Regions from separate parts of the Homo sapiens genome. Here regions 1, 3, 4 and 5 are each reported to be linked to region 2. Evidence: microRNA targets listed by miRTarBase, many of them from high-throughput screens and not tested one by one. Region 2 holds a microRNA gene; each other region holds the end of a gene's coding sequence.
What was found. Region 2 holds the annotated microRNA hsa-miR-513c-5p (UUCUCAAGGAGGUGUCGUUUAU, at 2,079-2,100, opposite strand). A microRNA usually pairs through its seed, bases 2 to 8, with sites in the 3' UTR of a target mRNA and lowers its output. Matches are read on the target gene's strand: a 7mer-m8 pairs with bases 2 to 8, a 7mer-A1 pairs with bases 2 to 7 and ends in A, and an 8mer does both.

Region 1 (4,000 bases), not on the chromosome of region 2:
GAGGGGCCTCATAGCTTCGTAGACAGAGCCAAAAAGGGTCTCTCTGTTAAGAGGGGGGTATTTTTAATAATTTGTTTCCAGCTTCGGCTTAGGTTTTTATTAGCGCAGCTGAACCAGCTTTAGGATAAAGGATGGGGTTCATATAATGTGGGGAAGGGTCCTGCTTACCCCTGAAATTTTGAGACTGTCGCTAGCAAAGAAGGGGTGAACAGTAAAAGGAGCTTTCCGGGGCAAAAGTGCAACCGCTCTCCTCCCTCCCGGGGCGAGCGGCCGCCTGAGCCCAGCCAAGGGTGAGGCACTAGGAGCGAGCAAGAGACAAAGCCGGGCGCACTGGCTGCCTGCAGAAGTGGGGGATGCAGTAGAAAGGGGTGCAGAAATCGAGCTTGAATGTGGGCATCTGGAGTAGAGAGGATTGGAGCTGTGGTGAGCTGGGTGCCGGGACGCCTGGGTCCTGCTCCCCCGCCCCCTCCCACCCAGTGCCCCCTCCCTTAACCGGAATAATGTTGCCTTGCGGCTTTCCTCTATCTGCTCCAGATATGACCGGGCCGGACGGGAAAAGGGCCCGGACCGCGTATACCCGCTACCAGACCCTGGAGCTGGAAAAGGAGTTCCACTTCAACCGCTACCTGACCCGGCGACGGCGCATCGAGATCGCCCACGCACTCTGCCTGTCCGAGCGCCAGATCAAGATCTGGTTCCAGAACCGGCGCATGAAGTGGAAGAAGGACAACAAATTGAAAAGTATGAGCCTGGCTACAGCTGGCAGCGCCTTCCAGCCCTGAGCCCGCCCAGAGGAGCCCAGCGGCCCAAGAGCCCGTGCCACCCCCAGCCCTGGCCCCTCCAATCCTCCCCGCTCTGCCGCCGCCCGCTGGGGACCGGTTCCCACAAGCCTGCCTCGCCTTGTGTTACGATATTTCGTTTGGTCTTAGGTCTTCCTGTGGCTCCCTCTCTCCTGGACTGGTTATCTTGTTATTATTGTTAATAATAATTATTATTATTATTTTCCTTCCATGCTCCCAACTCCCTTCTGCTTGTCCCAAATCCGCCAGTGTTTCTGAATGTTTGTGTCTGTGGTTGCAGTCTTTCCCCCAGGAAAAAAAAAAAAAGAAATTCGCATGTTTAATGTGAACTCTCCCCTCCCCATCTGTGTTCTAACTTATTTATAAAAAGATGATCGCTGTATTTTGAGTTTCAGCTGGAAACTTCTGTAAGGGGCAGCAGTTGAGGTGGGGTAGTGCCGCAGTGGGGTCAAGCTGAGCTGGCTTCGGAGATGGAGTCCCTTTTCATTCTCCTCCTCCTCCCTCCTCACTCCCTAGGCCCAAGTCTCCTAGGGGCTTGGTCCTAGGGTGGGAAGGGGCTAGGGAGGACCAAAGGGATGGTATTGAGAAGAGAGAAAGAAGATAGTGAGATTTAAGTTCCTGCTGCCTGGGTAGGCCCCACAAGGCCTGGTCTGGGAGTATACGGAAACAAAAATGATCCTCAGTGCAAAATGTCTTGTGTATTTCTCTGTGAATCCATGGGTCTGGCTAGAGGGCCCAAAGCTTGTAAATATGGGGATAGTCTGGGTCAGACCCATCTCTCCCTTACCCATCTTGCTTCCAAGACCATTTGTAGTGAGCGAGTGGATGCTGTGCTACGTGTGAAATCTGTCTTTGCGGGGCCTGTCTCAGTGATTCGCTTTTGGTATTTGTTTGTAGCTTTCCTGGAAGTCAAATAAATGTTTCCCCCACTCCATTGCCCTTCCACTTGTCTTTTCTCCGAGGGGTCTGCCTCTCCCATCCCGGGCACACCCTGCACCATTCTCAATAGATCTGGGGTGCAGGGAAGAAAAAGTAGGCTGCTCCCCAACAACTCTTCTCAGCCATGTAAGTCACTGGCTTGGTCAACAGTGCTTGGGCCAGGGAACAGACCTTCATGCCTGGGGGACTCCAAGGCCCAGAAACCCCATGTGGGGCTGGGGCAGAGGAAAGGCTGAGCTAGACTTCATCCTGGTCTTCCACTAGCTGGCCAAGGAAGCCTCTGGAAAACTCTTCTGGGAAAGTAATTTGGGCCTAAGTCCTCAGCAGGAGGCTCCTGGCCTTTTGGGAGTGGTAGAGGCCTGCCCAGCCCCCTGTCTCCTACTCCAAGTCCCAATTCAGCTCTGCCACCAACTAAAGCAAAAAAAAAAAAAAAAAAAATTCAGCTGGATTTCAAAGGATTTCTCTCACCCTCAGCCTTCCCTACCCTTATCAAGGGCTCCTTCTCTCCAAGGGCCCAACTGATCTTCCCTCTTGATTAGGAGTTAGGGTCCTTTCAGAAAGACCCCTGGTTCCCTTTCAGCCTGGCCCAGGGCTAGGGCCCAGTCTACCTCCATCCAAGTCAGCCTCCACCCTGAGCACAAGAGTCAAGTCTGGACACTTACCCGGTCAATCCCTTCCAGCTTGGCCCAACTTCTTACTGGACTTGGAGGGAGGGGGAGCTGGTGAGGAGGAAGCCGAGGGTCGTGGAGGCTCTACTTGGCCCTCCTTTCCCTTCACCCCTTGACTTTGTCTCCCTTTGTCGATAGCAAACTATCCCAAAAGTCGCTATGACATTTAGATGTCAAATGGATAGGGGTTTTATCTCGAAGTTAGATCGTAAAAATCGCCGAGAAGTCAGACAGATACCCCTCACTGGCTCGAGAAAGTCACGTGAGGTCCATAAAGTTAGTTTTATGGTTTTGGGGAGTTGACACCGCGCAGTATATTTCACATTCTCCAGAATGTTAAGTGACACTTTAACTGCTCGCTGTGGTGGGGAAGGGGGCAGAGGTAGGTGAGCACTCTCCCAGCCTGGAGCAGCCGGACCAGCCCAGAAGGCAGCGGCGGCCCAGGCCAGCATTCCCGCAGTAAGTCGCTTTCAGCTTTCGCTTTTACCCCTTGCAATTCTGGGGCCTGGGACTGGGGGAAGAAAACTTGTTTCCACCTGGGGCTGTGGGGTGATGTAGGGGAAATTTAGCCTGTTTTATGCACCCAGTTCTAAGGGACTGGGTGCCTGAAATGAGTGCTCTCAGTTTCTTAAGGCCTCATCGGTCGGGGGTGCCTGATTTTTACCAACAGGAGTGTCTGACTTTGTGGGGAAAAGGGTTTGTGTGGGGGATCCATGCTCCCTCAGTGCCAGCGGAAATTTAGGGACCAGGAAGGAGGGGTGTATATTGCTGAAAGAAGGGGCCATTGGTGGGGGCCACTTCACTGCTGGATATCTTCAGACAACTATCCCCCCATCCTCCGGAAAGAAACTTTATGACATTCATTTGTCGGAGGTGTGTGGGGGTGCACCGCTGGGCACTTTTATCTGGATACATCTGAGCTGAGAAAAAGCACCGGGTAGGCGGCTGCTGTGGGCTACCTTGCCCTGGGGTGATCTCTGGCTTTCCGATCTTTGAAGCCCATAAAAAGAGGTCCCTCCGGTTATCTTTGGCTTCATCAGGCTTCTCTGGGATGGGGAGCACAGCGCTGCTTTTGCCTCCACCTTCAGCCTGTTGGTCTCAAGCTAATCTTTCTCCTTGGCTCGAAGTAGGATCCTGAAGTCAGACTAGGGAGCAGACAGAGAGGGCAATTCCCCCAATTCAAAACCTAATTCCTGAACCAGGAGTGGGGGAAGGGAAGAGCTTCTTCTCTTGCCTAGAGGTGTTAGGTGTTTAAGTAGAACTCTGGCAAGCCCTCCTCAAATAAAATCAGCTCAAGAATACAAATCCCTCAACTGTCGGGAGGAAATAGATTCAGGAGCTGGAAGAGAAAATAGGAAAGGTGCTCTTTTTTCCTCTCTTTTTCCCTCTTCTTTTCTGGGCACACCCTCAAAGTCCCCTTTGTTTTGTAGAACCATAAACCAGAGAGACTTCAGGATTTGATCCCCAGGGGTTCTGTTATTTTCTAGGGAAAAGTCACCCTTCTAAAAGTCAGAGGCTTCTTCCCCACCAAATTGACCCCCCTCCAATTTAACACCCGTGGGGCTAACTACCCTGTCACTCCTACTTTCACCA
Region 2 (4,146 bases):
AATTGCCACAGATTTAGTTGTTTACAACAACACAAATTTATTATATTAGAGTCTAAAGGTCAAAAATCTAAATTAGGTTTCTCTTGGCTAAAATGAAGGCATTGGCAGGGCTTTGTTCCTTCTGTTGGCTCTAGAGGAGAATCTACTTGATTGTCTTTAGAAGATTCTAGTTACTTTCTCCATTCTTTGGCTCATGGCCTTTACCTCTACCTCTAGTCAATACTATAGTATTTTGCAATGTTTCTCATTCTAACCACCTTTCTCCAACGTATAAGGGCCCTTGTGATAATGTTGGGCTCACCTAGATAATCTAGGATAATCCCAATCTCAAAATATTTAATAACATCTACAAATTTTCTTCTACAATAAAATATGATGCTTACGAGTTCAGGGGTTACATTGTGAACATTGTTTGGGCGGGGGCTGTTACTCTGCCTACCACAGAGATCTTGTAATTTTTTCTTAGAGTTTCAAATAAATATTTTATGTTCATATTTTATTTTTCAATTAGCTTGATTTAATCATTGCATAATGTACACATATATCAAAACGTCATGTTGTACACCTTAAATATGATTTTTATGTCAGTTAAACCTTAATAAATTGGAAGAAAAAAGGCTGAGTAATACAAAACAGTATTTCACTGAAAAAAAACACAAATACCAGTAAATATACTATTCTTTTGAGAAATCATAACAGAGGTATGATAACAACTAAATTCTCTTTTATTTCATTTTAAGATATCACTTAAAGTTATATAAGTAAACATGCATCACTATAATACAGTTTTAGAAATTATATACTAAAAACAGTTATCACTTTGGAAAATTCTATGTACATACAGTATTGCAAAGTGACAAAATTTTTTTACTGTTCAGAATGTTGCCCCCACCCCAAAAAGATTGTATGTATTCTATTATTACAATGTTTTTCATTATGGAAAAGATACTTCAACTGTTTTTTTTACTTTCAGACATTAATGGTCTTATACATATTCATACATTCTGAATCTAAAAAAACATAAACCAAAATCCTGCCTGTAACCATATAGTAATTGTTTTTTATAGTTTTTCCCTTTCGGTGTTTATGCTGTAGCCTCTGTTTCAGTTGGAATCAAAATTGTATTAATCACTTACTATTTATAACATTTTTTACACATTTCCACAATATAAATAGCTTATTTATAACCTACTTCCCAAACATGTATACTAGATTAATGCTGCAGATGGCCTTACATAGTCTGGTGCTTGTCTTTCTCTTGCATGTTCTCTCTCTCTCTCTCTCCTCTCTCTCTCTCTCTCTCTCTCTCTGTGTGTGTGTGTGTGTGTGTGTGTGTGTGTGTGTGTGTGTGTTTATTTCCCTCTATTTCTCTCCATTAGGTTAAGAGTTAAGCGTCACCAAAAGAAAATGGGGAGAGAAGCCTAGGAGATATCTCTTGAGTATCAATTCTGTCATACCCTTCCATTCTTCAAATATACTCTTAAAAAATGGGGAAAAAAGATAATTAAAAAGGGTGAAATATTCTTGGGTGGACTATGCTTAACCCTTCATAAATTGGTGACTGAAGGCTTTGAAAGGTATTTTAACAGTCAATGAGAAAATGTTTTAGTCTTTGACAGAAAATGGACACTGTGGATCAGCAATGAAGGGACCTGAGAGGCAGGAGAGCCTTTTGGGAGCACTAAAGGACAATCCTTGCAAATGATGACTAGTTGATCAGTGAAAAGAGTTTAGAGAATTGAGGAATCTGGAGTAAAATGTCTCAGCTGACGAAGAATGGCTGTGGCCTCTATACAACGTATTTCTTATTTGAGCCAAGCCTCATTTGGCAAAAGTAGATAAATTCTTAAGGAACCAAAGTGCATGCGTTTTCTCAGGAGTCCACAGTTCTTATGTGTAGTCGTCTAGAAGGCACAAAAAGTTCCTTGAAGTAGCCCAGCACTGAGGAGTGGGTGCACAGGATGCAAAACAGGCATCACCATGCTCGCAGCTACAGCCCCATCCCTAGGGACACCACATATGCAGTGCATGCTGTACATTACTCTTCTCAGAAAGGTGAAATTTATATTTTAGTTCACATAAACGACACCTCCTTGAGAAAGGCACTGTACGCTGAATGGCTGAATGTGGCATCCCAGACCAAATGTTCCCTATTCATGCCGTTTTTATTCAAGTCCCTATAGGTGTATGCCTTCGCATGGCCACCAAGATTTATGCCAAGTAACAATGCAACTTCTAGCCCCTAGCACTCCCCTTTTCACCCTGCCCTGAGTGAGATATTAACATGCAGATTTTTGTTTTGTTTTGAGACGGAATCTGGCCCAGACTGGCATGCATTGGCGTGATCTTGGCTCACTGCAACCTCCGCCTCCCGGGTTCAGGTGATTCTGCCTCAGCCTCCTGAGTAGCTGGGATTAAAGCTGTGCACCACCATGAACAGCTAATTAACACGCCGATTTTTAGGCTGAGCAATGATAGAGCTTTTCACTTCTCCTCTTTTTCAGAGGTGAGTTATCCTTGTCTGAATTATCCCATTGGTTTTCCTGTAATTTTGCTTGTCTCATTAAAAATCCTCAAAGTCTTTGCTATTGTGAATAATGCCGCAATAAACATACGTGTGCATGTGTCTTTATAGCAGCATGATTTATAGTCATTTGGGTTATATACCCAGTAATGGGATGGCTGGGTCAAATGGTATTTCTAGTTCTAGATCCCTGAGGAATCGCCACACTGACTTCCACAATGGTTGAAACCAACCCAAATGTCCAACAATGATAGACTGGATTAAGAAAATGTGGCACATATACACCATGGAATACTATGCAGCCATAAAAAATGATGAGTTCATGTCCTTTGTAGGGACATGGATGAAATTGGAAATCATTCTCAGTAAACTATCGCAAGAACAAAAAACCAAACACTGCATATTCTCACTCATAGGTGGGAATTGAACAATGAGATCACATGGACACAGGAAGGGGAATATCACACTCTGGGGACCGTGGTGGGGTGGGGGGAGGGGGGAGGGATAGCATTGGGAGATATACCTAATGCTAGATGACGAGTTAGTGGGTGCAGCGCACCAGCATGGCACATGTATACATATGTAACTAACCTGCACAATGTGCACATGTACCCTAAAACTTAAAGTGTAATAAAAAAAAAAAAATCCTCAAAGTCAGGCTAGGCTCGGTGGCTCACTCCTGTAATCCCAGCAATTTGGGAGGCCAAGGTGGGCAGATCATCTGAGGTTAGGAGTTCGAGACCATCCTGGACAACGTGGGAAAACTCCCATCTCTACTACAAATACAAAAGATTAGCCCGGCGTAGTGGTGGGCGCCGGTAATCCCAGCTACTCTGGAGGCTGAGGCAGAAGAATCACTTGAACCCAAGAGGCAAAGGTTGTAGTGAGCCAAGGTTGCACCTTTGCACTCCAGCCTGGGCAACAAGAGTGAAAATCTGTCTCAAAAAAATCTTCAGACTCAGCCGGGCATGGTGGCTCATGCCTGAATTCCCAGCTCTTAGGGTGGCCCAGGTGGGGAGATCACTTGAAGCCAGAAGTTTGAGACAATCCTGACCAACATGGTCAAACAAACATGGTAAAACACCATCTCTACTAGAAATACAAAAGTAGCCAGGTGTAGTGGCTTGCACCTGTAATCACAGCTACTCTAAGCTGAGGCAGGAGAATCACTTGAACCAGGAAGGCAGAGGTTGCAGTGAGCAGAGATGGTGCCAATGTACTCTAGCCTGGGTTACAGAGCGAGACCCTGTCTCAAAAAAACAAAAACAAAAAACCCTTAAAATTACAGTTAAGTACAAAGGACCAACCACTCACTAAAGCTTTCTGTTGTCCTAAAACTCCAGCTGTGCTGCACAGACCTAAATTCCAACAGAAAAACCACAGAATACAACCACCTGGATGCAGAGAAGTGCAGAAGAGTCAGAGAAAACTAGGTTAGAGAGAGCAGAAATTTAATTTCTTCTTCAGGCTATGCAGGGGGAAGAATCCATAGAAATTAATACGAGAGAGAGACGAGACAGATAATGGGCTGGAAGACAGGAAATGCTATTCTATTTCTCTTAGCTCCATGGTTCTTTATCGTTCATTTATTGGGGTGCTCTCTCTGTGTGTGTGTGTGTGTG
Region 3 (4,146 bases), not on the chromosome of region 2:
GAGTCCGAGGATGATCCTGGGGTCAGAGAGCATGGAGTTGGGGGTGGCCTTGGGGAGAAGGAGCCGAAGGAATGAGTCTCTCCTGCCCCCACTGGCACCCAGGCCTGGTCAACGTGGTGTGGTGGCTGGCCTGGTGCCTGTGGAACCAGCGGCGGCTGCCTCACGTGCGCAAGTGCGTGGTGGTGGTCTTGCTGCTGCAGGGGCTGTCCCTGCTCGAGCTGCTTGACTTCCCACCGCTCTTCTGGGTCCTGGATGCCCATGCCATCTGGCACATCAGCACCATCCCTGTCCACGTCCTCTTTTTCAGGTGGGTGCTGCCCCCTGCCTGGTGCTCACCTTCTTTGGACCCTTCCTTGCCCACTCCTTAGGGGAGATTGGGGGCTCTGTGTGCCCATCCGCCCCCTCCCACCTTGCCTGCATGCACCCCACCCTTGTCTCCATGCGAGCTGTCAGAGCTGTGTGCCTCAATGGGCTACTCCTTTGGCCCACAGCTTTCTGGAAGATGACAGCCTGTACCTGCTGAAGGAATCAGAGGACAAGTTCAAGCTGGACTGAAGACCTTGGAGCGAGTCTGCCCCAGTGGGGATCCTGCCCCCGCCCTGCTGGCCTCCCTTCTCCCCTCAACCCTTGAGATGATTTTCTCTTTTCAACTTCTTGAACTTGGACATGAAGGATGTGGGCCCAGAATCATGTGGCCAGCCCACCCCCTGTTGGCCCTCACCAGCCTTGGAGTCTGTTCTAGGGAAGGCCTCCCAGCATCTGGGACTCGAGAGTGGGCAGCCCCTCTACCTCCTGGAGCTGAACTGGGGTGGAACTGAGTGTGCTCTTAGCTCTACCGGGAGGACAGCTGCCTGTTTCCTCCCCATCAGCCTCCTCCCCACATCCCCAGCTGCCTGGCTGGGTCCTGAAGCCCTCTGTCTACCTGGGAGACCAGGGACCACAGGCCTTAGGGATACAGGGGGTCCCCTTCTGTTACCACCCCCCACCCTCCTCCAGGACACCACTAGGTGGTGCTGGATGCTTGTTCTTTGGCCAGCCAAGGTTCACGGCGATTCTCCCCATGGGATCTTGAGGGACCAAGCTGCTGGGATTGGGAAGGAGTTTCACCCTGACCATTGCCCTAGCCAGGTTCCCAGGAGGCCTCACCATACTCCCTTTCAGGGCCAGGGCTCCAGCAAGCCCAGGGCAAGGATCCTGTGCTGCTGTCTGGTTGAGAGCCTGCCACCGTGTGTCGGGAGTGTGGGCCAGGCTGAGTGCATAGGTGACAGGGCCGTGAGCATGGGCCTGGGTGTGTGTGAGCTCAGGCCTAGGTGCGCAGTGTGGAGACGGGTGTTGTCGGGGAAGAGGTGTGGCTTCAAAGTGTGTGTGTGCAGGGGGTGGGTGTGTTAGCGTGGGTTAGGGGAACGTGTGTGCGCGTGCTGGTGGGCATGTGAGATGAGTGACTGCCGGTGAATGTGTCCACAGTTGAGAGGTTGGAGCAGGATGAGGGAATCCTGTCACCATCAATAATCACTTGTGGAGCGCCAGCTCTGCCCAAGGCGCCACCTGGGCGGACAGCCAGGAGCTCTCCATGGCCAGGCTGCCTGTGTGCATGTTCCCTGTCTGGTGCCCCTTTGCCCGCCTCCTGCAAACCTCACAGGGTCCCCACACAACAGTGCCCTCCAGAAGCAGCCCCTCGGAGGCAGAGGAAGGAAAATGGGGATGGCTGGGGCTCTCTCCATCCTCCTTTTCTCCTTGCCTTCGCATGGCTGGCCTTCCCCTCCAAAACCTCCATTCCCCTGCTGCCAGCCCCTTTGCCATAGCCTGATTTTGGGGAGGAGGAAGGGGCGATTTGAGGGAGAAGGGGAGAAAGCTTATGGCTGGGTCTGGTTTCTTCCCTTCCCAGAGGGTCTTACTGTTCCAGGGTGGCCCCAGGGCAGGCAGGGGCCACACTATGCCTGCGCCCTGGTAAAGGTGACCCCTGCCATTTACCAGCAGCCCTGGCATGTTCCTGCCCCACAGGAATAGAATGGAGGGAGCTCCAGAAACTTTCCATCCCAAAGGCAGTCTCCGTGGTTGAAGCAGACTGGATTTTTGCTCTGCCCCTGACCCCTTGTCCCTCTTTGAGGGAGGGGAGCTATGCTAGGACTCCAACCTCAGGGACTCGGGTGGCCTGCGCTAGCTTCTTTTGATACTGAAAACTTTTAAGGTGGGAGGGTGGCAAGGGATGTGCTTAATAAATCAATTCCAAGCCTCACCTGCCCTTGTTCAGCTCATTTGTGTGAATAGGGTGGGCTGGAGGGCAGGAGAAGACAGTTGTGGCGGCAGGGGCAGGTCCCAGAGCTGGCTGGAGGCAGTAAACAGAGGTGAGGTCTCTGCCTGGGCACGTGGCATGGGGAATGGCAGGCCCCAGAGGCAGAGCTGGGCAGAACTCAAGTCCAGTTGTGAGAGGGAGCTGGAGCCAGTTCTTTCCCTTTCACTTCCCTCGGCCATTGTGCTTCAATCATAACACCCCCACCTCCCCACCACCTTGCAGATTCTACTTCCATCTCCTCATGATCCCCACTCTCCCTCGTTCTGGTCTGAAGCAGTCTGCACTGTTTGTGACTTCACCTCTCTGAGCTTCACCTGGAAACAGACTAGCAGGACCTGCTGCTGAATGCAGGAATGAATGATGCGATGGACACAATGGCATATCACAAGTGCCTGGTGCACTGCAGGTGCCCGGTGAGCTCCCCTGACCTTGGCCTTCCTTAGTTTGGGAAGAATGAGTGGTACAGAATGCTAGCCTCAAGGAAGCTTCTGGAAAAAAAGCCTAGGGTGAATGTCTCCCCTACCCGGACACTCAGATCTCTGGGCCCTTGCTGCTTCCCAGGAGAGCCACACACAGCACTGACCGCAGCGGCAGGGTATTATTTCTTTATTAGGTGCCACTTCAAAGAACAGGGAATCCAGGTGGGTGGGGGCCACAGGGCACCAGGTACAGCCCTCACAGCCCAACCTTCTGAGCCCAGGCGAAGAAGACGCCCTTGACATCATCTACGCCTGTCTGAAGGTGGGCAGGCATGATATAGGTGCGGAGGTCCCGGACCTTGTAGCCACTACGCACCAGGGCCTCCCTCACCTCCTCCTCAGACACTGGCACCACCGTCAGCCTGGCCTCCCCAGCCAGGTACCACGACTCCTCCAGGGCCCCGATGAGGAGGAGGTGCCCCCCAGGCCTCAGCAGCGTGGTGATGTGGTCCAGGGCCCGCTGAAAGCTGGCAAGATCTGGGCTCACAGCCTCCAAGCAGAAGGCAGAGACCAGGGCGTCAGCAGGCAGGGGAGCTGGGCTCCCAGCACCCAGGGGCTGGGGCTGGTGCACGTCGATGGGCAGGACCCGTTTCACCCTGGCTCGCAGCTGGCGCTCCTTATCCTGCCAGCATTCCCTGTGCAGGAGGCACAAGGCAGGGCTCAAGGCTGTTCTACGCTCAGGCCTCTGTTGCCCCAACCAGCCACTCTATGGGAAGCCTCCTCCCCAACCCTCACCCCCCAGTCCTTACCCCTTGCCCTCAATGAGGCAGGCATGTTGGCTGTACATGCTCCAGTTGAAGGCCCCCGGCTCCTCCTGCAGCCAGCGCCCCAGCTCCTGGCGGTTGACCTCCAGGAAATCTGTCATGGTGATGTCCTCAAAGTGGCTGCAGGCACTGAGCAGCTGGTACACGGTGGGGCCTGAACCAATGTCGATGAGGGTGCGTCCGGACACTTCACCTGGGCAGGGCAGAGGAAGAGGGTCCTGGTGCCAGCCAGCCCAGGCAGCCCCTGCCTCCTTACCCTTCCCTCCCCTGCATCTCCCTGCCTCTCTCTAGTTCTTCCTTCTCCTCTGCAAATGTGTCTCCATCTGGAAAAAGCATTGGCCCCAGAGTTAGACTGAACCCAGCTCCAACATGGGCTGCCCTTCGGAAGGGAACTTCACCGCTCTGAGACTCAGGTTTCACATCTAGAAGACTATACCTACTGGCCGGGCGCAGTGGCTCACACCTGTAATCCCAGCACTTTGGGAGGCCGGGGTGGGTGGATCCTAAGGTTGGGAGTTCGAGACCAGCCTGACCAACATGGAGAAGTCCCGTCTCTACTAAAAATACAAATAAATTAGCCAGGCATGGGGGCGCATGCCTGTAATCCCAG
Region 4 (4,128 bases), not on the chromosome of region 2:
ACCTAATCTCAGAAGTGACATCCTATCACTTCTGCCAAATCCTATGATGACACAGACTAACCCTAGTACAATGAGAAAGAGGACTGCAGGGCTATGAATACCAAGAGGCAGAGATCAGTGGTGCCCTCTTGGAGGCTGGCTACTACAGTGGGCAAGAGTGGAAGCAGGAAGACTTGTTAGAAGGCTATTGCAGAAGGTGTAGCAGTTTGGTAATGTGGATCAGGTATCCTACCGTAGGGTTTTTATTTATTAGGTTTTGCATTTCTTCCCAGGCTGCCAGCGGGACCAGGATGGCTATTACTGGATCACTGGCAGGATTGATGACATGCTCAATGTATCTGGTGAGGGCCAGGGGCCACCTTCCCATCTTATTAACTCTGCTCCTCTGACAACACCCAGCCGAAGCCTTCCGCAAGAGCCCAGGAGTGTCCTTTGGCCAGACCATGTACTAAGTGTAGCATTCAGTTCTGGGCCCAGGTTTTAGAGGAGTAATGAACACTGGAATGTGCCTAGAGTAGGGGAACTTGGATGGTGGGGTGACTGAAAGCATGTCATCTGAGGAGTGAATGAAGGGTCTTCTCCATTTGGCCAGACCAGGACTGCCCCATGGGTACAGATGGAGCATGGGCTGGGGCAGAGCCTGGGATCTCTCTCATGGCACTTCCTTTCCCTTGACAAGGACACCTGCTGAGTACAGCAGAGGTGGAGTCAGCACTTGTGGAACATGAGGCTGTTGCAGAGGCAGCTGTGGTGGGCCACCCTCATCCTGTGAAGGGTGAATGCCTCTACTGCTTTGTCACCTTGTGTGATGGCCACACCTTCAGCCCCAAGCTCACCGAGGAGCTCAAGAAGCAGAGTAAGGAGCCTCCCTGGGCAGGGACTATAGGGTCTGTCTTGGAGGCCCAGTTATCACTGCAAGTTGTTGGGGAGGGGCTAGAGCAAGCTGCTCCCCAAACCACAAACAGATTCCAGGGGGCCCCATGGGCTGATTGCCCTCTTCCTGTTCAGTCTCCACTAGTCTCCCACTAGGATAATAATAATAGCCAACATTTCTAGAATACTTTGTGCCACCGCTAGGCTAAGTGCTTTAAATGAATTACCCCACTTAATCCCTAGAGTCACCTCCATGAAACAGATCTTATTGTTACCTTCATGCTAAAGATGATGAAACTGAGACTCATGGAAGTTAAATCACTTGCCCAAGGCCACACTGCTAGAAAGGTGGCATTTAAACTCTAGCAGGCTCATTCTACAGCCTGAGTTCCATAAGATAAAATGAGAGAGTAAAGAGACAAGTGTGTTGAGAGCAAGAGAAGCAGTGAACCTGAGGCTGTCTCTGTGGGCAGGGACTTGAGGAGGAAACAGGTGGGGAACAAAGCCATCTCTACTTTGATTTTTGAAAAGTCTGGCTAAGGGTGCTGAAGAAATGCTTGATGATTTGTTGGTTACAGTTAGAGAAAAGATTGGCCCCATTGCCACACCAGACTACATCCAGAATGCACCTGGCTTGCCTAAAACCCGCTCAGGTATGTTCAGAGGCCTCCATGGATTGGGATGGGCTGAGGCCTGGTGGTGGTGGGGTGTGCGTGGATGAAAGCCTTTGGCAGGGCTAGGGTGGGTCAGTGCTTTCACCAAGTAACTAGAGGTCTGTGGTTCCCCAGGGAAAATCATGAGGCGAGTGCTTCGGAAGATTGCTCAGAATGACCATGACCTCGGGGACATGTCTACTGTGGCTGACCCATCTGTCATCAGTCACCTCTTCAGCCACCGCTGCCTGACCATCCAGTGAACATGATCCTGACCTTTACCTAGGATTCCTCCTGCTCCAAACTTTGCCCATCCTCTTTGCCCCCTCAGGAGTGCTGAGGGCCAGTGTTGACCCACACTACCCTCCCTTGACCAGCTGTCTGGGACCGGAAACCAGCTTTGTCTCCAGGTAGAGACAACATCCTGTGACTGCCAGGCAGAAAGGACAGGGCCCAGGTCAGCCTCAGTCTGCTGTGCCTCCAGACTGCAGAGCTCTCAGAACCCAGAACAGAGACGAAAAGGCTACCTCTCCTACCCAAGTTAAGTGTTCAAAGGGGATGTGAGGGCCTCCACTGAAGCAGGGAGGCAGCTGTGTAATCCTATGTCAGCTCTCTTAGGAAGCCCCAGTACTTATATTGGGCATGCACTTGCCCTTAAAAACAATGATTTGTGAGTCCAGGAACAATTTACTATTTTTAAAATATTTTGCTGCTTCTGTTCTGGGTCTGAATTCCCTTTTGTGCCAGATGCCAGTACTGTCTGCCCATTGGCTCCAGGGGCTGTATGGGCAGATTCAGTCTCCAGAGGGTATTCAGATCATCTGCTTCTTTGAAGGAGTAAATGTGTTTTGTTCCTAGGGCCAGAGGAGCTTGTCTTCCTTGTCCTCTGTTCCCACCCTCCCCTGAACAGAACCCAGCCCATAAGAGACATTCTCAGATGAAACTCTGTTTTCTTGCCCCAGTCAGGCTCAAGCCCTGTGGTTGTAGGAATAAAGCCTGTGATCTCAAGAAGTGGTGACTTGTTTTCTTAGGTATCTGTGCCCTGAGGCTGTATATTCATTAGTGGCTCTGATTTGTGTGGCAGATGGGAAGGGAGGGGTATTTCCTAGGACTATCCCCAATATCTTCCTTCTAGAACTTTTGGTTTGGGCAGAGCGAAGGAGGCTTCACTGACAGGGCCTTTGACAAGCCCCTGAGCTAAGCAGGAAAGTGACTGAAGCCAGTTCACAACTGTTATGTATGTCCCATCTTGGTTGCCTTCCCTCCTGGGCTCCTGCCAGGGACTCTCATTCCTCCCTGTGATCCAGTAAGAGCATTAGTGGGTGGCTAAGGATTGAAACTTCAGGGTTCCACCTGTAGAGACTGGTCTAGGGGGACCCTGATTACAGACCAGTCACTTCCCTGCTCTAATACATCTTAAGTGGGCTAACGTAGATTACAGCTCCCGCCTCCCCTCTATGCACGAAGTAAGGAATCATCACTGAATCAGCAATGCAGTTTTATTTAAGGCAGAATTAGGGAAAGGCTATGCCCCTCCACTCCCCCTCCTCCTACCACTCAGTCCTATCCCAAGTCAGGCACTGGAACCTGCTGAAAAGGCTGATGAGGGGCTGACAGGAGTGGGGCAGGGTTCATGGACCTTTACCTCAGAGCAGCTTACCCTGAGCTATACCCACATCTCAAGGATTTGGGGGCGTCTAGATCTCATCTAAGGGAGACACAACTTTTCTGGTCCTCAGATGGAAAGCTGGGGGAAGGTACCAGTATTTACCCTTCCATAAAAACTTTGGAGGTCTTTAGGAGGATACCCCTCAGGAGGGCTAGGAGAGGAATGACAAATACAGAGGATAGAAGGTCCCGTGGCCTGGTTGTGCCCTCACACAGGGTATGGGTTGTCCAGGACTGCCACTCCCGCTGCCACACCACCATCTGCATGCTCGATGGCTTTGGTTCGAAGTAGATGCCCCACGTGCTTGTTCATCACGAGTGTCTTTTCCTGCCTATAGAAATGGAGGCAGGGGACACACATCACCTGGACTCAGCCCCAAACCCAGGACCTTCCCTGGACCCAGCTGAGCAGTACCTGGGTAACTGTCTATACCAAGAAAGTGCTAGGATTTTAGAGTCTCTATGCCTCTCTGGAGTCTCCTTCTAGTCCTAGGTTGTCAAACCATGTGTTCTGAGTCCTCTTGGTGCTATTTGGAGTTTCCTTCACGGTTGCAAAGGACTTCTCATCAGGGCTTCATCTGATACCCTGGTAAGGTGGGCAGGTCTTGGGTCCTTGGCCTCATTTAATAGATAAAGAAACAGGTAATAAAGCTAGTGATTGGCAGAGCTGGCACCGAAGCCCAGGATTCCTGACTCTTTCCAGTGTTCCCCTCTAGGCTGGCTCACTTGGCTGGCACTCTTGCAAGCAGGTAGTGGAAAGAGCTTCTCCTGATTGGCTCACCTGACATAGACCCCAAAGATGCCCAGCTCTGAAATGCACTGGACCACTCGGGCAGGGCTGCCAGGCCGTAGCAGGCAATTCTCAAAAGGCTCAGGTTCGATCTTCTCCATGAGGATGTAGGAGGCCCTCTCCTCACTGTCCTTCAGCTGTTTC
Region 5 (4,119 bases), not on the chromosome of region 2:
TTTCTAGTTAGATAGCAACTATATTTCCCAGACAAGCAAGAAAATATATGGGGCATTTTTTATAAATTTAAAAGTAGCTAGCACAATCCAACCACGCAACTTTTTTTGAAATAGCTTGCAATGCTATGATTCCAAAGTGATCAAGGTACTTGAAGAGCAAAAATGGCTTGAATAGAATGGAAATGTAGGCAAGTGGACAGATAGCATCTAGATTGAATTTGTTACAGGTGGTATATTAGCAAAGAAATAGAAAAATGAAATGGAAGAAATATACCAATTCCCATTATTTCATGTAAAAAGAATGGCTAATTTAACTACAGATGTTAGCACATGAAGACATTGTTTTAAAGTTTTTTTTCTTATAGTATCTTTGTCTGGGTAATACTGGTCAAATAAAATGAGTTGGGAAGTATTTCCTCCTCTTCTGTTTCCTGGAAGAGATTGTTTAGAATTGATATTATTTCTCCCTTAAGTGTTTGGTAAAATTCATCACGGAAGTTATCTGGGCCTGTAGTTTTCTTTACTGGAAGGTTTTTAACTTAACCACAAACTCAATTTCCTTAATAAATATGGTTCTGTTTAGGTTATCTGTTTCTACAGTGAGCTTTCTAGTTTGTATCCTATAGGGAATCTGTTTCATCTAAGTTGTTAAATATACAATCCTTGAGTTGGTCATGGTGTTTTCTAGTTAGCCTTTTAATAACTATAGTGTCTGTAGTGTATTCCCTTTCATTTCTGACACTGAATTTGTATCTTCTGTTTTTCTAGGCAGTCAGCTAGAAGCTTATCTTATTGCTCTAAAAGCATTTTTAATGCACTCAAGATAGTTATGCTAGAAACTTTAACTTCTTATTCAACACTGAATATGAGTGACTAATTTTTAATTAAGGATCTATTTTGCTTTTTATATCACAGTAATGACTTCTATGTGTTAGTAGTAGTACTTCGTTCTGTGTAATACTGGAATACTAGGAGTTCATTCTAACTTAATGAAAATCAAAGTTGGCTTAGATGGAATATGAATTTAACTTCTGAGGGCCGAAGACTTAAATTGTGCTCTTTTTAAATTCTGCAGAACTATATATCTTCATACAGATCTTCGTTGTAGCTTTGTTTGGCCCAGGTGCTTAGGTGTTTGCAGGTCTGAGAAACCTCTAACCTAGTGTTCCTCTAAATTAGAGTCCTTGGATCTGTATCAAAACCACCTAGTGTACTGTTTAAAAATGGCCATTCCTAGGCCTTATTACAGGACCTACTGTATCAGAATTGAACACGTGGCCCTGAATCTGCATCTTTAATGAATTATCCAGGTGATTCTTACAATGAAGTTATAGAACTACTGTTCTAATGTCACAAAGGAGAAAGAGAAAAGTTGGATTTTAAACTTCAAGATACAAAATAATTAGTCTCTTAGTCTCTTTTTCTTTTTTTTTTTTTTTTTGAAATGGAGTCTTGCTCTGTCACCCAGGCTGGAGTGCAGTGGCGCAATCTTGGCTCACTGCAACCTCTGCCTCTCAGGTTCGAGCAATTCTCATGCTTCAGCCTCCCAAGTAGCTGGGACTACGGGTGCCCGCCACCAAGCCAGGCTAATTTTTGTATTTTCAGTAGAGGTGGGTTTCACCATGTTGGCCAGGCTGGTCTCAAACTCCTGACCTCAGGTGATCCCCCCTGCCTTGGCCTCCCAAAGTGCTGGGATTACAGGCATGAGCCACAGCGCCCGGCCAATTAGTCTTTTGATAAGGGTTCTATAAGGCCTAATCATCTGCATTATTACTCATTTAATTGTATATTACTTCCTGGCCAGGCACAGTGGCTCACACCTCTAATCCCAGCACTTTGAGGGGCCAAGATGGGCAGATCACTTGAGGTCAGGAGTTCGAGACCAGCCTGGCCGATACGGTGGAACTCTCTCCATTAAAAACAAAAATTAGCGGCCAGGCACGGTGGCTCACGCCTGTAATCCCAGCATTTGGGAGGCCAAGGCAGGCGGATCACGAGGTCAAGAGATTGAGACAATCCTGGCAAACATGGTGAAACCCCGTCTCTACTAAAAATACAAAAATTAGCTGGGCATGGTGACACGTGCCTGTAATCCCAGCTACTCAGGAGGCTGAGGCAGGAGAATCACTTGAACCCGGGAGGCAGAGGTTGCAGTGAGCCGCGATTGCGCCACTGCACTCCAGCCTGGCGACAGAGAGAGACTCCATCTCAAGAAAAAAAAAAAAAAAATTAGCTGGGCGTGGTGGTGGGCGCCCGTAATCCCAGCTACTTGGGAGCTTAAGGCTCGAGAATCACTTGAATCCAGGAGGTGGAGGTTGCAGTGAGCTGACATTGCAACACCACTCTAGCCTGGCAAAAGAGTAAGACTCCATCTCAAAAAAACCCCACAAAATTTATATTACTTCCTTTTTCAGTTTTCCCTCGTAAAACTTGTGAAGTCATTACATGTCAGCACCAATTTCATTATTAATAAACAAAAAATATACTCTAGTTGGAATTAAACTCTCATCATCAATGTAGTTAGACCCATGCAATTAATACCTAATGCCCCTTTTCTCCACTAACTAATATGGCATCTAATTTATAATAAAATATTTTAAGTCTCCTGTTATATTTAAATTGCATCAAATTTAAATTATGTTAATTATAAGACTGGCATGCCAAGCCAAATTATCACAGAAGATTACATGAACAAGCAATGTTAGTGATAGATGCTTTTTGTTATCCATCAAATAATTACTAAGTTTTCTTTTTAAAAAAAATCAGTGTTTATGGGCACACAATTAAATACCATTTAGAAAATCCTTAACTTAGGACCAGGTCACTGGCTTAGTTAAAGTATATTTATATTTGATAGTTTCCAAGGTAAGGTTACCATTGGGGAAATTGTGATAATTAAGTCAAACAGTTGTACCACTGACCTAACCAGTACATTAAGGATTTCTAAATGTATCTTATTGTGTATTTAGCATAAGTGGCCATGCTAATATTATCAATACCAAACTGCAGACAAGATTAGTTAAGAACTATGCAGAAAACCTGAGCATCCTACCTTTACTTTCTATACATTCGCATTACCAATTTTTTCTTTTCAAAACATCCCTTGCATCAAGTGCTACTTTCTAACAGCTCTTAAGATTCTCTGTTCACCAGAACAAGCAACATTAAAGATAACATTGGTTCCCATGTTATATATTCATTACTAATAGCACTTATCAAAGCTAAACCTAGATAATATTCCTTCTTTCCTGACATACTGCTCAGTGGCAAGTACACTTCTTCTCAACCAGCATAGGAAACCTTTCCTTTGGGTCATTTCCCTTCTCAAAAAACTTTGCTTAAGGGAAATTGGAGCTAAAGAGCTTACCAACAAATAGCCCTACTAGAGTTCAATAAATATGCTTTGCTATTAAGTCTAATATACAAATATGATAGAAGTTTGAAAATGGAACCTTATCCCAGTGCTATATTGGCACGTAACATGGCTAGTGATCATTTCAAAAGGAGTCATGTTATGTTTTGAGTTTGTTTGTGATAAACCTATTGTCTAAACAGATTTATTCTTTAAGAATATACACAAGAGGTTTTCCTCCATTATTTTCACACATCAGATATGGTGTTTGGTTTTTTGAAGGAGGGAGGGGGTACTATCTACAACAAATACTTCATTCATAGCCATAAACCATTTGTATCTTGGGCTTGAGCCCCTGGTTAAATCAGGAATGCTCTTCAGCGCTGCTGCTGAATGATCTGCTCCGGATGTGATTTCTCAGTTGCTCTATAAGTTCAGGATTTTGTTGCTGTATCTGCTGAGCAAACTGCTGTCCCCTGTAGTAAAGAGGCAATGTGGTTTGAATAGGGAATTGCCAGTCACATTTACCCACGCAAAAAGAAATGCAGAAAATGTAGGAGCTACCTAAAGGGGGCTTTTTTCTATAAAAACAAGTTTCAGAGCCATGACTTTAGAATCTACAAGTTTACCAATGCCTCCATATAGCATTATTACAATGCAGTGTTCTTTATAAGAAACAAAACACCCATGCTAAAAAAAATAAGTACCTCAACTGGGTGAAATCTACTTCTCTAGTGCTAATGACAAAGAAGCAAAGGGTAAGACGT

Region 1: the mRNA of HOXB5 is a reported target of hsa-miR-513c-5p. Seed matches in the 3' UTR shown: 7mer-A1 at 1,382-1,388.
Region 3: the mRNA of PGAP3 is a reported target of hsa-miR-513c-5p. Seed matches in the 3' UTR shown: 7mer-m8 at 627-633.
Region 4: miRTarBase lists GSS as a target of hsa-miR-513c-5p. Seed matches in the 3' UTR shown: 7mer-m8 at 3,204-3,210.
Region 5: the mRNA of SGTB is a reported target of hsa-miR-513c-5p. Seed matches in the 3' UTR shown: 7mer-A1 at 3,322-3,328, 7mer-A1 at 3,280-3,286 and 7mer-m8 at 2,207-2,213.

The regions. Positions count from the first base shown.
Region 1 is chr17:48,588,991-48,592,990 of GRCh38, reverse strand. HOXB5 (homeobox B5) reads left to right here. Exons shown (of 2, transcript NM_002147.4): 2 at 535-1,734. The coding sequence ends at 782. It overlaps HOXB3 (homeobox B3), which reads left to right and starts at 2,750. Exons shown (of 5, transcript NM_001384749.1): 1 at 2,750-2,866. It overlaps HOXB-AS3 (HOXB cluster antisense RNA 3), which reads right to left and starts at 2,571. Exons shown (of 3, transcript NR_033201.2): 1 at 2,402-2,571.
Region 2 is chrX:147,187,675-147,191,820 of GRCh38, forward strand. It overlaps MIR513C (microRNA 513c), which reads right to left and starts at 2,113; the gene lies at 2,030-2,113. The region is part of intron 1 of LOC105373347 (periphilin-1); the gene reads left to right.
Region 3 is chr17:39,669,212-39,673,357 of GRCh38, reverse strand. PGAP3 (post-GPI attachment to proteins phospholipase 3) reads left to right here. Exons shown (of 8, transcript NM_033419.5): 7 at 103-307; 8 at 492-2,236. The coding sequence ends at 555. PNMT (phenylethanolamine N-methyltransferase) reads right to left here. Exons shown (of 3, transcript NM_002686.4): 2 at 3,522-3,729; 3 at 2,883-3,407. The coding sequence ends at 2,969. Among named protein-coding and RNA genes, the nearest start is that of PNMT, 2.8 kb to the right of the region's middle.
Region 4 is chr20:34,925,426-34,929,553 of GRCh38, forward strand. It overlaps GSS (glutathione synthetase), which reads right to left. Exons shown (of 13, transcript NM_000178.4): 12 at 3,976-4,128; 13 at 3,007-3,526. The coding sequence ends at 3,403. ACSS2 (acyl-CoA synthetase short chain family member 2) reads left to right here. Exons shown (of 18, transcript NM_018677.4): 15 at 273-341; 16 at 680-856; 17 at 1,452-1,526; 18 at 1,662-2,534. The coding sequence ends at 1,789. Among named protein-coding and RNA genes, the nearest start is that of GSS, 28 kb to the right of the region's middle.
Region 5 is chr5:65,666,530-65,670,648 of GRCh38, forward strand. SGTB (small glutamine rich tetratricopeptide repeat co-chaperone beta) reads right to left here. Exons shown (of 11, transcript NM_019072.3): 11 at 1-3,828. The coding sequence ends at 3,717. Among named protein-coding and RNA genes, the nearest start is that of TRAPPC13, 44 kb to the left of the region's middle.